Regions from separate parts of the Homo sapiens genome. Here region 2 is linked to region 1. Evidence: fine-mapped expression QTL. Tissue or cell type: prefrontal cortex. Region 1 holds a variant in brackets; the other region holds the start of a gene. All regions are shown on one strand. Distances are between the middles of the regions.

Evidence for each region. PIP is the estimated chance that this variant, and not a neighbour inherited with it, causes the effect.
Region 2: ASRGL1 starts here. The variant in region 1 is fine-mapped to the expression of ASRGL1 in prefrontal cortex (ROSMAP, PIP 0.95).

The regions. Positions count from the first base shown.
Region 1 is chr11:62,387,627-62,395,729 of GRCh38, forward strand. It overlaps ASRGL1 (asparaginase and isoaspartyl peptidase 1), which reads left to right. Exons shown (of 7, transcript NM_001083926.2): 5 at 1,507-1,625; 6 at 3,896-4,006; 7 at 4,453-5,786. The coding sequence ends at 4,658. Among named protein-coding and RNA genes, the nearest start is that of SCGB1A1, 27 kb to the right of the region's middle. RefSeq lists enhancers at 7,245-7,314, 7,425-7,474. The variant CAAAAAAA/C (reference allele first, on the strand shown) is at 4,942.
Region 2 is chr11:62,334,053-62,342,155 of GRCh38, forward strand. It overlaps ASRGL1 (asparaginase and isoaspartyl peptidase 1), which reads left to right and starts at 3,396. Exons shown (of 7, transcript NM_001083926.2): 1 at 3,396-3,522; 2 at 3,838-4,115. The coding sequence starts at 3,926. RefSeq lists an enhancer at 3,307-3,976.

The DNA.
Region 1 (8,103 bases):
GTCCTGCAGAGACACTCTGTGTAAAACAGCACCTCCCCACCATCACTCTTCCCTGGTGCTTCTTTGTTTTTTTGTTTGGGTTTTTTGTTTTTTTGTTTTGTTTTTGTCACCTGACATATTATTGCCCTGTTACTACCACCCTCTACCCCAAATGCAGGCTCCATGGGAGAAAGGACTTTGTTTAGCTTTACCACTGTGTCCCAGCACTTAAAACAATGCCTCAAATATAATTCATTATAGAACCTTGCTGGTGGGTATGCTGGGGTGTTCGTGTACAATTTGTTCAACTGTGTTACAGTCACGCGTCTCATGACAGGACAAGAAATGCATCCTGAGAAATGCATAGTTGGGCAATTTCATGGCCATGCAAACATCATAGGGGTGCACTCACACAAACCCAGATAGGAGAGACTAATACACATCTAGGCTATGTGGTCCGGCCTGTTGCTGCTACGCTACACACCTGTGCAGCATGTGACTGTCCTGAATCCTCTAGGCAGTTGTCACACAATGGTAAGTACTTGTGTATCTAAACATAGAAGTACAGTAAAAATAGAGGATTATAATCTCATGGGACCACCATCCTATATGCAGTCTGTTGATCAAAACATCATAGGTGGCACATGACTGTATTCGAGAATTCATAATAAAATGTTAGGGGAAAATTAACGGATTTGATCTTTACGACAACCCCATGCACAGGGTCCATAGGCAGGCAGCATCAGCGACACCCGGGAGGTTGTCAGAAACGCAGGATCAGCCAGGCACAGTGGCTCACGCCTGTAACCCCAGCACTTTGGGAGTCCAAGGCAGGCGTATCACCTGAGCTCAGAGGTTTGAGACCAGCCTGGCCAAGATGATGATGAAACCCTGTCTCTACTAAAAATATAAAAATTACCCAGGTGTGGTGGTGCATGCCTGTAGTCCCAGCTACTTGGGAGGCTGAGGCAGGAGAATCACTTGAACCCGGGAGGCAGAGGTTGCCGTGAGCCAAGATTGTGCCACTGCACTGCAGCCTGGGCGACAAAGTGAGACTTCATCTCAAAAAAAAAAAAAAAAAAAAAGCAGGATTTTGGGTCCCAGCCTGTATCTACCAAGTCACTTTTTCCTTTCCTTTCTCCTCTTGGTGGCAGCTTCAGAGTCTCTGTGGGCCCAAGCACCCCAGGAATTCTTATACACACTAAAGTTTGAGAAGCACTCTTACTTTTATCCCCATTTTATGATGGGGACAAAGAGACACAAAATAAAACTTAGCATCACAGCTAGAAAACGGTGGTGTTGGGATTGGATGTACTCTTAAAGCTGAGGTGTGGAGGAGTGTCCAGCAATCCACCTGTAACTTACACGTAGAATGAGAAGCAGCAGGTTCTTTCTAGAATGTTGGAATTAAATGGGTGCCCCATCAACATATAACATGAAACTTTAAGTGGTTTTAAGGTACATTGTTGGTTATGGTGTTCATTCTCATTTTCAGCCTGTCACTTTTTTTCTGTTTATTTTTGGCAGAAACTTGGGAACCGTGGGTGCTGTTGCCTTGGACTGCAAAGGGAATGTAGCCTACGCAACCTCCACAGGCGGTATCGTTAATAAAATGGTCGGCCGCGTTGGGGACTCACCGTGTCTAGGTAGGACCAAGGGATGCCTCCTGCCCCTTCCCCTCTTCTCCCGCCCTCAGGCTTTCCTCACTCTCTATTCCCTGCCCCTCTCCGTTTCTTGCTGCGTTCCCTTTCTGCTTTTGGTGCAGCTCCAGGATGTCTGGGAGTGACAATGGGGTTGGAAGGGGTTGTTCGGGGTGCTGCCTTGAGAGGGTGTTTGTATCTGGCGCCACTGTTTTTACTAGATTGCATGCCTTTTTGGAACAACTTGGGGAGAGAAGTGGAGACAGGGATGCTAACGTTGCCCCCAGTCTACCCTGTCGTGATTCTGTCTTCTCTTTAGCCACAGTTTCAGGATCTGCAGACTTACTTGAGTAAGACTTACTCCCGAGACATGGGCTCTGATTAGCAATCTGAGAAATCTGAGACTGCAGTTGTTAGATCTGAGCAGCATGAAAGTGACATACTTCTACAGACACATTATAGATTGAGATGTTGTTTACATTAACGGGGAAGCACGCCATCTCATTCCCAGGAGTGGGTGAGAGGCAGGGCTGGGGGGCTGTATGTTTCACTCCGTGCAGACTTTCACACTTGTCATGCAGGAATCCTCATGAACCCCCACAGGTGACTGAAGTTTTGAGAAGCAGCTAAATTGTTCCATCTGCCCTAAAGAGCAGCTTATTCTTTTAGAGGAAAACTAGCCCTACCTTCCCTTTTTAATGTGTTGCTCTAGTCTTTAGTAATAATCTACACTCTCGACAATTCTTGATACCCTTTTTCTGTCATGAACTCAGAGACACTGGAAGCTTCCTTAAAAAGAGTAGAGGCTTGGTAACTCCTCTTCTCCTTGGTATATCACCCAAGAGATGTGAAGTAGTCTACCTTTCTTTCTCCTTGGCAAAAATCCCACCAAACTGTGCCTGGTCAGTAGTGCAGCTTGCTTCAGCTGCGTTCAGACCAGGCCACAGGGCCACTCCAGGTTAGATCCTAGAAATTAATTTTAAGCTTGAGTTACAGTGGTAAATCTTGACAAGAAAAGGCATAAGCTAAATTCTCAGAACTCTCTGTCCAGCTGTGAGCACCAGGTGTGCTCTGCCTGGCCTTCTGAGGAGCCTCCCCAAGGAGCACTGCCACTGGCCAGGCCCCTGCCTGGACAGTCATGGGGGACGGTACTAGGCTCAGCAGTGGTCACCTCAGGCAATGCACTTGTCCTGAGAAGTGCATGTGGCGGGGAGGACAGCTTCACACGCCCGATGCCTGTGCCAGGACCACCCTTGGAGACACCTGGCCTTCTGTGGTCCTAGAGTAACTGAAAAGTAAGCAAAGACTTGGCTGCTTCCAAATATTAGGGCACTTTGACACCATGGAACCCGGTCAGTTAATTCCCCAGCAGAAGCTTATAAGAAAAAGTAAAGGCGCCTCCTCCCACTGCAGCAGTTCATTGGCTGTCCAGTGTCAGCTCCCTCCAGAACCAGAGCCAGGGATTATCTGCCTTTGAGAACCTCTGGGGCCTTGTGACAATCCAATGCAGCATCTCAACTCCTGAGTCCTTGCCCCATGTCCAGCATCAATAAGTAAGGCAAATGTCAATCTTCTGTGCTTCTGTATCAACTGTGGGAGGGTAAAGGCGAATCCTTCCAAGGCTAAAGGACTCTGAGGCTGGTAGCTGTGTGTGAACAGATACAAGAATGACTCAGAGAAGGCTGTAAGGTTGCTTAATCCAAGCCCAAAATAAGGAAGAAATCTTATCAAAGTAGCTTTCACTCCAGACCCCCACTTAAGTGGATAGCCCAGAATAGTTCCCTCAGGTCCAATTATGCCCACCCTCAACAAATATAACTGCCCTCCATTAGACAGTGTGCATGGATGTTAGGTTGTGGGTATCATTTTCCCCAAATCACTGGAACATGATGGCCTTGCTAGAGATCCATATAATGCAGTCATGCTGTTTCTTCCTCCATAGTGTGTGGGGCATGAGGAGGAGACAGGGAGAGGGTGGCTTCATTGAGCAAAAAGGAATGGCTGTGCTTTGGGGCCAAGGAGATGCTGTCCTGCTGTAGCTGCTCTGTGAAAGGTCAGGCCTGCCCCTCTGAGGCTCCCTTTATCCTCCTAAATTCTGGGGCATCTACATGACGCTTTCTAGTCCACCTTTGCCTCCGCAGATCATGGCTACTAACCTGACCTTTGTCGGTACTTGAGCACCCTTCGCGATTTAACTTTCATGTAGCGTCCGACTTCTAATATGGATTTGAATTTCTTGACTGTTACTGCTCAGAACAATCACCCTTTTTGAGCAGGAGCTGGAGGTTATGCCGACAATGACATCGGAGCCGTCTCAACCACAGGGCATGGGGAAAGCATCCTGAAGGTGAACCTGGCTAGACTCACCCTGTTCCACATAGAACAAGGTACACAGACCACAGGACAAGTAAAATAATTTGTGAAGATAAGTGCATAGAAGGTATTTGATAAGTAAGCGCATGGAGAAGTGTAGGAAACCCTTTCCTGTTGGCTACAGATGTTGCTTTCAGGCCGTTAACACCTTGTTTTGACTCTCCGCCTTCCCTTAGGTCTGGAATGGTAGAGCATTGAGTACTGTTATCTTCCACATCTCAGGAGAAGGGGGCAGTAGAGAGACATTGAGCCTGGATGTGGGAGGGAAGACCCCTCTGCTCAGGCTGATGCTAGGGCGCTGTCTCAGGGCAAGGAGGTGAGGACCCTCCTTTTAAGCATTCAGGCGTTCATTTACCAAAAATCCTTGCTAGCTCACTTTGGCATTTCAAATGGCAAGTGATTTTCCCATGAGATTCCTTTCAGTAATGTGTGTTGTTTCTCAACCCTTCCTTGTTTTCAGGAAAGACGGTAGAAGAGGCTGCGGACCTATCGTTGGGTTATATGAAGTCAAGGGTTAAAGGTTTAGGTGGCCTCATCGTGGTTAGCAAAACAGGAGACTGGGTGGCAAAGTGGACCTCCACCTCCATGCCCTGGGCAGCCGCCAAGGACGGCAAGCTGCACTTCGGAATTGATCCTGACGATACTACTATCACCGACCTTCCCTAAGCCGCTGGAAGATTGTATTCCAGATGCTAGCTTAGAGGTCAAGTACAGTCTCCTCATGAGACATAGCCTAATCAATTAGATCTAGAATTGGAAAAATTGTCCCGTCTGTCACTTGTTTTGTTGCCTTAATAAGCATCTGAATGTTTGGTTGTGGGGCGGGTTCTGAAGCGATGAGAGAAATGCCCGTATTAGGAGGATTACTTGAGCCCAGGAGGTCAAAGCTGAGGTGAGCCATGATTACTCCACTGCACTCCAGCCTGGGCAACAGAGCCAGGCCCTGTAT[CAAAAAAA/C]AAAAAAAAAAGAAAAGGGAAAAAAGAAAGAAAGCAGCAGCATGATCCTGACATGACAGATGTGGGAGACCCACAGCCTGCAGACACTGTGGGCTGGAAGGTGGGAAGGGAGGGGCCGGTGGAGGTGGAGCTGTTTGAAAGTGACACAGCAGCAGTAGAAGCAGTGGTGGGCGAAGCCCAGGTGACCCTCAGAACGTTGCACAAGAACATCAGGGAAAAGAACCAGAATCCTTTAAGGAAAATGTTCTTCATGTATGAGAGACTAAAGTGATTTTTCTAAGAAAGTTCAGCCCTTCTCTGACTTACCTGGACATTTCTAGATACTTCCAAAGGACCCTCTGGGAATCCATAGCTTCCTAATCTGGAGATGGGAGGTCATAAGGGAGACGCTGTGGGGTTCCTTGAAGTTTCTTGGGTTCACAGAGGAGCCCCCTCACTTGGTGTTCTCCCGTGAGCCAGCCTCCACCTGCCAAAGACACTCTGGTCCTCGTATAGTGAGTAATGGGGCTCAGGGCCTCTCCAACAACAGAGAGGAGCTGATGCTGTAGGGCTGACCCCGTGACTTCCTGAGTCCTCACCCTGTCCAGTGCTTTGAGATTCTTCCCACCTCCCCATCCTCACCAGCCGGATCGGGCGCTGTGCAGTGTGGTCAGCATGGTGAAGAAAGTCATTTCCTCGGTGGGCAGTATTCCTCTTTATCTCTCATTACACTGGAAATGTTATTTCTGCTGTATCATCCGTGCTCAACGTTTTAGTCTGTCAGGCTCACCTTCTCTCTGGAAAGAATTTGCTTAACTTGACATTCCATGTGCCGCTAATAAAATATATTTTGAAAGAATAAGGGTGTGGTTGGGAGTCACTGTTGACAAAGACCAGAATGTACACGAGCTCCCCCCTTGGTCTCAGGTGTACTACAGAGACCTCGAGATGAGGATGGTGTGGAGGGTGATATGTGCCACCTTGTGGAGTACTCGTGAGTTTTTCAGAAGAACTGAACTTTTTCTGAGTGGGTCAAGGAAGAAGCCAAACCATGATAGGGTTTATGGCGCAGTCTTCCTGCAGTTTGCCAGCATTCACCCCAGACAGAGGTGCACAGTAAAAACCTCAACATGCAACAACTCCCCCTTTAGAAACAAGTATTTTATTAGGAGGTGTATTAGTTGAAGATTGCCACAACACGATTCCACAGACTAAGTGACTTAACCAACAGAAATTTATTAATATTTTCTCAGCTCTGGAGGCTAAAAGTCCAAGATCAAGGTGTCGGCCACGTTGGTGTCTCCCGAGGCCTCTCTCCATGGCTTGTGTAATAGCTGGCCATCTTCTCACTGTGTCCTCACATGGTCTTTCCTCTGTACGTGCACAGCCCTGCCATCTGTCTCTATATGTCCTAATCCCCTCTTCTTATGAGGACACCATATTAGATATAATTTATATATTATAATATATAAATTATATAATATATAAGTTACAATATATCTAATATGGTATATTTATTATATATTATAATTTATACAATATATAATATATATTATAATTTACATATATATTATATATAATAAAATATATAACATTTATATAATACATATATATTATATATCATATAAATATATATACTATTATATATAATATATGATATATAATATTATATATTTTATGTATTATATATAATTTGTTATATATTATATACTATATATTATATATCATATATTGTATATATTATATATTATATAAAAATATATGATATATAATTTATAATTTATAATATATATTATATATAATATGTAAATTATAATATTAGATTAAGGTCCACCCTAATGACCTCATTTAACCTTAATCACCTCTTCAAAGGCCCTGTCTCCAAATACACTCACATGCTGAGGTACTGGGGGTTAGGGCTTCAGCATGTGAATTTGGGAGAGGACAGAATTCAGTCCATAACAGGAGGCAAAACAGAATCATGTTGGGGTTTGGAAAGGGGAGACCCTTTGGAGAAGACAACAATCGCTAAGGAGATAGAAAAAAGGAAGGAGGGAGCTGGGGGATAGGGAGGCCAGTTGGAAGATCTGGTTTTGAGCTTGTCTTACCAATTCTCCAGTTCACAAGGAAATTTACTCTAGTTATTAAAGATTACCGTAGGCTCAGCTTGTGGCCACTTGACCTCTTTAGCTGGGCAGCCCAGGTGCTAGGGTACGTATGGGGTCGTCAGCCCCTTTGTGCAAAGCCAAAGTGTGTATTTTTGCCCTCAGACCTGAGTTGTACCAAAAGCCACCTCCACCAGCCTGGGAGTTCTGTAAATGGAGACCACGTACAGTTCTTGCTTTTGCCCCACAGCTTGTCCATGGCTCACTGTCAAACAGAGAAATGAGCCTGACAGCATCTGAAAGGGGAAGACAATCTTTTTATCACTTCTGTGCCACAAGAGGGCAGCAAACTATAAACTATCCATGGCTTCAGCCGCCCAAAGGGAAGGTACTCTATCTGGATCAGAGCAGTCTATTTAGAAAATTTGGAACCAAAAGAACATTCCTCTTCCTGACCTTCATTTTCGTCCAAATACTACAATTTATTTTAGAGCAGAATTGTCCAAAACACAAACGCTAGCAAATGGCCCGAAGAACCCACCCAGATCAACAGTGGAAGCTCGCTCTGCCCTGGGCGCTGCCAGATGCCGGATGCCAGATCCCACGGTGAACAAGCTCTGGCAGCCCGGCCCCGCCCCCACTTGCTCCTTCCAGCCAGGAAGACAGATACATCGTCATGTGGCTCACCCACCAAAATGGTGGGATAATAAGGAGCACAAGACGGGCCCTGAGCCAAGGCCAAGTGTCCCCAAGCAGGAGTTGCTGCAGTCAGGACTCAGCCCCACTGCTGGGCTGCAGAGAAGAGTCCTGGGTAAGGAAGGGCCTTGATCTCGTAGCTGTTGCATAATACACATTTTTCTCAAATAATATTCCTAGACTTCTTCCTCTCTAGCTTGAGGGATTGTAAACTCTGAGACCAAAGGAAGGAGTGGGGCACACGTTAGTCCCCTTCAGTGTCCTGTTGTCAGAGGTGATGGTGTGTGGGGAAGGCTGGGAAGGGACACTCGTTCTTCCCGCCCCCCACCTGCTCCTCTGAAGTCCTCCCATCAGCCTTCATCTTTGCACAAAACC
Region 2 (8,103 bases), 54 kb before region 1:
ATTCATGGGTACTAAATCTCCTAAATAAGCTCAGGGATCTCAGAGTTGAAACGTATGTGTCCCGCTTCTTGTTTGAAAGCGAAGCTCAAGATAGGAAGGTGGCAGGCTCAAGATACTGTTACACATTCTAGAATTTGGAGGGAGTCTCACAGATTCCCATCCTGCCCCCAGTGGGGTCAGCCAAAAGCCTTTTCCTCATGTAGCTGAGACTGGTGGGGATGGGAAGTTGCTAGGCAGTAAGAACGTAGTAAAGGCAGCCTGCCAGTTCCCCAGTGGACCTTCAGAAAATGTTAGTTGCGGCCAGGTGTAGTGGCTCACACCTGTAATCCCAGCACTTTGGGAGGCCAAGGTGGGCAAATCGCTTGAGGTCAGGAGTTCGAGACCAGCGTAGCCAAGATGTTGAAATCCCATCCCTACTAAAAATACAAAAATTAGCTGGGCGTGGTGGTGCATGCCTGTAATCCCAGATACTTGGGTGGCTGAAGCAGGAGAATCATGTCTGAGCCTCGGGAGATGGAGATTATAGTCAGCCAAGATCGCACCACTATACTCCAGCCTGGGCAACAGAGCGAGACTCCGTCTCAAAGAAGAAAGAAAGAAAGGAAAGAAAGGGAAGGAAGGGAAGGAAAGGAAGGAAATGTTAGTTGCTTCTTTCTTTTTTTCTTCTCTTCCTCCCTCCCACCCCCATTTCTTCTTCGTCAATCTCTCTAATATGCCTCCTTCATTTCTGACCCAGAAATGCCCAGTCCCTGCCCAGTCCCTCCTTTTCTGGTCCCACCTCCTCTCCCCAACTCTGGCATTCCCTAACCCAACCCTCCTCCTCCTAGAACATCCAGAGCCACTGTAGTTAGAATCACTTCCTTGGGGCTCTAGTCAACCTCCCCAGTCACACAAATGGGTTACTCCTCCCTTCAAAAATCCCTCTAAAATGATAGTAAACAATCTTAAAAAGAATACTACCCACAAAGACAGGAAGAATGGGAGAGATGACAATGGCAGGTAAAAAAGGTCACTTTGGAAGATGAATAACAAATGGCAGATTAAAGGAAGTTGTAATCTACTTGAGAGGTGAATCCATTTGTTCTGGAGAACGCTTGAGAGACTCAGGGCTTAGACACACAGGAATCTCAAAGATGGGGAGGCAGGAGTGGCAGGTGTTCCCAGTTGTCTCTCCAATAGCCTGTCACCCTTCCTTCTTGCCAAGAGACCTTGATTTTATCCAGGGCCATGATGTACCCTGCTAAAATAAAAACTCAGACTCTCTTGCCACTAGGGGCAGCCCCCCAATCCAGTTCTGGCCAATAAAAGTCCACTTGGAGGACTTCTAGGAAAGCTAGAGAGCTTTCCTGAATTAAAGGAACAAAGGGGAGCTGGCAAAAGCCTTCTTCCCTTTGCCCTTCCCCATTCCTTCTGCCCCAATAGTGATCAAGGTGCCTAGGAGCACCATAAATGTGAAAGCCACATGCTGAAGGGAAGAGAAGGAGATGGGACATCTGTGTCACCTTGGAGCTGCTGCACCAGCCTGGGCAGCAACCACTAGATGTCTTGTTGTTGTTGTTGTTGTTGTTGTTGTTATTGTTGTTTTCAAATCAACAGTTATCTGGTTAAACCACTGTGGTCACGTTTCGTCAGGGACAGTTGAATACAATCCTTAATCCATAAAATGATTGTTGATGGAACATCGTCTACAGAGGAGTTAGCCAGATTCCTTCTCCTATCCCACAGAGCCGGACAAAAAGATGCTTCCTCTTTCCTCCTCAAAGACCAGAAGTTTATTTTCTAGAGAATTTATCTAAGAGACTTTGGATTGGGATGGGGAATACGAAGCCCATCAGAGAAGTAGATAAACGCATGAGGCTGAGATGGGAGGATCAAATGGAAACCAACATTCTACCTGCTTGGGCCACCAGCCACCTTCCCCAGCCTCAGCCAGATCACTGAATTCCAGATCAATCAGGAAAAACAGTAGAGATGGGGTTTGAGTTAGGGCTAGGCATAGGGTAGGGTTCAGGTTCCTATAAATAGCTGAAACCAAATGATGGTGAGCTGTATTATGATGACACAACTAGGCTCACGACCAGTTGAGACGTGCTAAAATAACCCTCTTCCAAGAGGTGAGTGTGGGAGACAGAATAACGGCCCTCAAAGGTGTCACATCCGAATCTCCACCTGTGAACACTCCTCACATGGCAAAAGGGACTTTGCAGATGAGAATAGAAATTGTAAGAAAGGGAGATTATCCTGGGTTATCTGGGTGGGCCCAATGTCATCCCAAGGGACTTCCTTTAAGAAGGAGGCAGGAGAGTCAGAGTCAGAAAAGAAAATCGTGATGATGGTGACAGAGAGAGAAGTGACGTAGCAGCAGAAACAGGCCAGAGGGAGAGAGAGTTAAAGATGCTAGGCTGTTGGCTTTGGCAATGGAGGATGAGGCCATGAGCCAAGGATACAGGCAGCTTGTAGAAGCAAGAAAAGACAGATTCTCTTCTGGAGCTTCCCGAAGGAACTCAACCCTGCAGACCCAGTTTGAATTTCTGACCACCAGAACTGTAAGATAATGTGTGTTGTTTGAAGCCAATAAATTTGTGGTAATCTCTAACAATAGGTCACTAGAAAGGGAATGACTGATCCTTAGTGGGGTGCCAGGGAGAAGGCTTTGCAGGAGGGGTTCATTTAAACTGGGCCTTAAGGCAGGAAACGAAGGTAAAACAGGAGTAAAGGGAATTCCCAAGAGTGGTAAAATATGTTATCAGTTGTGGGTAAACAAGAAGGGAAAGGACTCTCCTATCCACAGGAGATCAATCACAGTTTGCCTGGATCTGTCCCTGTTTATGCCCATTGTCCCAGTATAATTTTTTTTTCTTTTGATTCGGAGTTTCACTCTTGTTGCCCAGGCTGGAGTGCAATGGCGCGATTTCCACTCACCGCAACCTCCGCCTCCCAGGTTCAAACGATTCTCGTGCCTTAGCCTCCAGAGTAGCTGGGATTACAGGCATGCGCCACCACGCCCAGCTAATTTTGTGTTTTTAGTAGGGACAGGGTTTCTCCGTGTTGGTCAGGCTGGTCTCGAACTCCCGACCTCAGGTGATCCGTCCGCCTCGGCCTCTCAAAGTGCTGGGATTACAAGGCATGAGCCACTGCGCACAGCCTAGCGTTGCTTTTCAATCTGCAATTACAAAATCGTGGCATGCCACTTCACGCTTCTCGCCACCAACCCAACCACCCAGCCCCTAGCCTGGTCAGGAGCAGGAGGTTCCCCGCGTGCCACCAGGAAGCTCGGGCCGGCCAAGAGCGTAGACTCTTGAGAGGAGTGAGACAGGTGCGCGCCAGCCGGCCTTCGGGGCTTTATGGGAACTGGGCCGTGCGGCGGTCCCGCCCTCGTGCGCAGGCGCAGAACCGTTGTGACCAGAGCGGTTGCGGGCTGAGCGGTTTCGAGCCGGCGTCGGGGAGCGGCGGTACCGGGCGGCTGCGGGGCTGGCTCGACCCAGCTTGAGGTCTCGGCGTCCGCGTCCTGCGGTGCCCTGGGTAAGTCGGCGGCCCTCCCGGAGCAGCCGCCCGAGACGCGGGAGGGCGAATGAAATAAACGAAAATAGACATTTTCCCGAAGGCGAAATAGACATCCTCCTTCGGCGCCGGGGCTTGGAGGCGGGCGGCGGTGGGCGCGGGTTAACGTCCCCGGGGAAACTGAGACCCCCAGCAGGTCCGGGCCGGGGGCGGAGAGGAACGCGGGAGGGCGCCGGGCCCCTGGGCTTTTCGTACCAAGCTCGACCGAGCCGCCCCTACCCACCCCCAGCTGCGAACCCAGCCGTTCAGAACAGAGACTGGGCATTGTCCCCACAGGGTCTCCCGAGGACCTTGTACCCGCGCGGCTTCCTTGGGCTGGCTTTGGACGACGCTTTCGCCTTCCTGCTGCCTAGGATCCGCCGACATGAATCCCATCGTAGTGGTCCACGGCGGCGGAGCCGGTCCCATCTCCAAGGATCGGAAGGAGCGAGTGCACCAGGGCATGGTCAGAGCCGCCACCGTGGGCTACGGCATCCTCCGGGAGGGCGGGAGCGCCGTGGATGCCGTAGAGGGAGCTGTCGTCGCCCTGGAAGACGATCCCGAGTTCAACGCAGGTAAATGTGCCTTTCAGCTAGTAAATAATGTGAGTCAGGTCAAGCTCCTTCTTCAGAATAAATAGAACCTACATAGTGTTAGGGAATCTAATGAGCTTTGGGGTGAAACTAAGTATGTAAAAAAGAAACAATATTTAATTTTTCTACCTGTGCTGAAAAGAGTCAAACGCTAAAATATTTGTAGAGATTTATACTGAGGCAAATATGAGTGACCAATGGCCTCTGATACAGCTCTTGGGAAATCCTGAGAATGTGTGCTTCTGGAGAGACATAAGATGTCAATCAGTACATACAAGACATACATTGGTTCCATCTGGAGAGGTGAGACTACTGGGGGAGGGGGAGTGGTTTCCAGGTCATAGTTAAGATTCAAAGATTTTCTGATGAACAATTGATTTAAAGTTTTGTCCAAACACCTGGAATCCACAGAAGGGAATGTCTGGATTATATAAGGACTTGTGGCTGCAGATAGAATTAATAGAAGGCGGTTTAGCACGGTGGCTCACGCCTGTAATCCCAGCACTTTGGGAGGCCAAGGCGGGTGGATCACCTGAGGTCAGGAGTTCGAGACCAGCCTGGCTAACAGGTGAAAAGCCACCTCTACTAAAAATACAAAAGAAAAAAAAAAAAAGCCAGGCGTGGTGCTAGGAGCCTGTAACCCCAGCTACTCGGGAGGCCGAGGCAGGAGAATAGCTTGAACCTGAGAGGCAGAGGTTGCAGTGAGCCGAGATCACTCCAGCCTGGGCGACAGAGCGAGACTATCTCAAAAAAAAAAAAAAAAACTGAAAAAAGAAGGGAATGTCTGCATTAAGATAAGAGGTTGAGGAGACCAAGATTTCCCTTAGGCAGAGGAAGTCTCCAGGTAGCAGTCTATTGAGAGAATAAATTGTAAATGTTTCTTATCAGAGTTGATTCTCTCCTGAATCAGGAAAAAGGCCTAGAAAAGGAAGGGGATTCTCTTCAGAATGTAGATTTTCCCCACAAGAGATAGCTTTAGCTTTGCAGGACTATTTCAAGATATGGCGAAGAAACGTAATTTGGGGTAAAATACTTCACTTTCAGGGCTTGCTATCTGTCATGTGATGTCATACTAGAGTCCCGCTGGAATTTGGTATCTTATTGCTACAAAGTCTGCTTTGTCAGTCTTAAGATCTGTTTTAATGTTAGTGCTGGTCAGCTGGGCCTGAATTCCAAAAGGGAGGAGGGAATAATGAGGCATGTCCTACCTCCCCCGACAAGGTTCCAAAGTTTTCAGGTTAACTTTGGAGTGCAGAGTGTATTCCTTTGTGTTTCGCTTCTTTCACTCAGTCCACCCTTTTTTGGAATACTAATCATTATAGCTAATATGAGTATCTACCATGTATCAGGCAGTGGTCTAAGAAATTTGCTTGATTTATTGAATCTGAACATTAAATGAGTTGATCATGTAACTCTCTTAAGTTGGTTAACTTGTGTTAAACTAACTCAAGTTAACTCATAATGAACATTAAATGATTCACTTATGAGTTAATCACTTAAACTCAGTTGAGTTAAATGAGTTAGGTATAAGTTAGGCATAATTATTATCCTCATTTCTCAGATCAGACTAAGGCATAAACAGATTAACTTGGTGGAAGACATTCATCTCTTTGTTTTAAAATGGCAAACCTAAGATCTAGGCTAGAGATTGAAATACTTCCTGGAATTATACCACCCATCTGTCAGGGAAAAGAATTTCAGGAAATCTTAATTAATCATCAAATATTTACTCTTGTTCTGTCCCCTTTACGCAGCACTCTTTAACACTTGTGAAAAATTGTGTAATTCTTCCTGAGACCGGTGCAGTGGCTCACGCCTGTAATCCCAGCACTTTGGAAAGCTGAGGTGGGCGGATCACTTGAGCTCAGGAGTTCAATGCCAGGCTAGGCAACATGGCAAAACCCCATCTCTACAAAAAAAAAAAAATACAAAAATCAGCTGAGCGTGGTGGCACAAGCCTGTAGCCGCCGCTACTCAGGAAGCTGAGGTAGGAAGATTCCTTGAGCCCCAGGAGGTCAAGGCTGCAATGAGCCAAGACTGCGCCACTGCACTCCAGCCTGGGTGACAGAGTGAGACTCTGTCTCTGAAAATAAAATTAAGTTCATCTGAATTTAAAATGAGACCTAATAGTGTGCTTTCATGGCTCCATTTGTAGAGCCAGAATTTACCAGATAGGCACTGACTTTGCCAGCAGAGGGAGCAGCCAGCTCTTTCTGTGGGTGACTTGTTAAACCTTACGCTTCTTAGCACTCAGCACCCCCTGGGCTGTCAAACCCTCACTTATTTACACAGGACCTTCATTTGAAATGGGTCATTCTGGTTTCCGACCATCTCTTATTCTAACAATTTGTCATCTGCATGCATTGGGAAGCACAGATTAGGGAATTGGAGCAGCTAGTTCTCATTTTTTTGCTCTGTATCCAGAGGCCTTCCTTCTCAACGTCTGCCCTCTCATCTTTCAAATGTCCTCTATTCCGCATATTGAGGAAGAAAAGAGTAGAGCTGAAAAGAGGGAAAGCAAAGATTATGGGGGGAAAGGTGGGACTTTTAACAGCGTACTGTGGACCTTGGCTTTTCCCAGCCAAGGTCACTACCGGCAAGCAATATTCCCAGCATCCTCTGCTATAATCCTCTAGAATAAATAACTGTTTGGGAACTTCATACAAAAAGCTGACTCCCAGTAGGTATTGAGTTCAGTGGCAGTAATTAGCATTCATGACACAACTTGCCTGAACATTTGTAAAAACATTATGTTTATTTACATTCTATTCCTGTTTCAGTGTGCATTTGACTTTATGTCAAATTGAAAAGTGGTTGATTTTTAGATACCAACACTGTAAAGACTGAACTTTTAAATTTGAATGCTAGGAATATTCTTTAAAAACTTACTTAGATTGGCAACCAAATGACCATTTGCTTTCACTGGAGCTCAGCGATATTTACACAGCACTTGAGATATTCTCTCTACAATTCAATTTACAAGCTATTAGAGAATCTTTGAGATAACAGGATTTTTTTTTTTTTTTTTTTTGAGACTGAGTCTCGCTCTGTCACCCAGGCTGGAGTGCAGTGGCACAGTTTCGGCTCACTGCAAGCTCCACCTCTCAGGTTCAAGCGATTCTCCTGCCTCAGCCTCTCGAGTAGCTGGGACTATAGGCACCCACCACCAGGACCAGCTAATTTTTAGTATTTTTAGTAGAGACGGGGTTTCACTGTGTTAGCCAGGATGGTCTTGGATCTCCTGACTTCATGATCCGCCCACCTCAGCCTCCCAAAGTGCTGGGATTACAGGTGTGAGCCACCACGCCCGGCTGAAAACAGGATTTTTTTCATTTATCCAGTCTCTTTCTGGACTTACAATGTAGAATCAATAAGGTAAAAATCTGTAGTGGGGTCTAGGAATTGGTATTCATTTCTTTGTTTTGAAGATTCCCAGGTGATTCTGAGATACAACCAGGTTTAGAATCTACTAGCCTAATACCATACAATTTTAATGGGTTTGGTGTTGGTTTGTTGGTATAATTTGCATATAGTAAGATCCCCTTTTTAGTATACAGTTCCATGACAGAGACATATAGTCATGTAACTGCCACCACAATCAAGATATAAACCAGTTACATTACTCTCCCACATCCCTTTGAGTCCACGCCTCCATTCACTCCCAGCCCCTGGCAACAACTAATCTGTTTACTATTCCTGTAGTTTTGTCATTTCCAGGATGTCGTATGTTTGAAATGTTTGTTTTTTGGTGCTGTAAAGAAATAGTATTCGAACATTAATTTATTTTATTTAGTAAGGCCGTTTTTATTTTTTGTTGAAAGGGTACACTTGTCAGCAGTTTTGTCCCAAGAGTATACTGAACAAAGGAGACAGGGTTATTTATAACCTGACGCATTTACCCTACTGCTGTGTCCGGTTTCTATTGGCTGAAACGGGACCTTACATTTTCTATTTGTTTCGATTGGCTCGC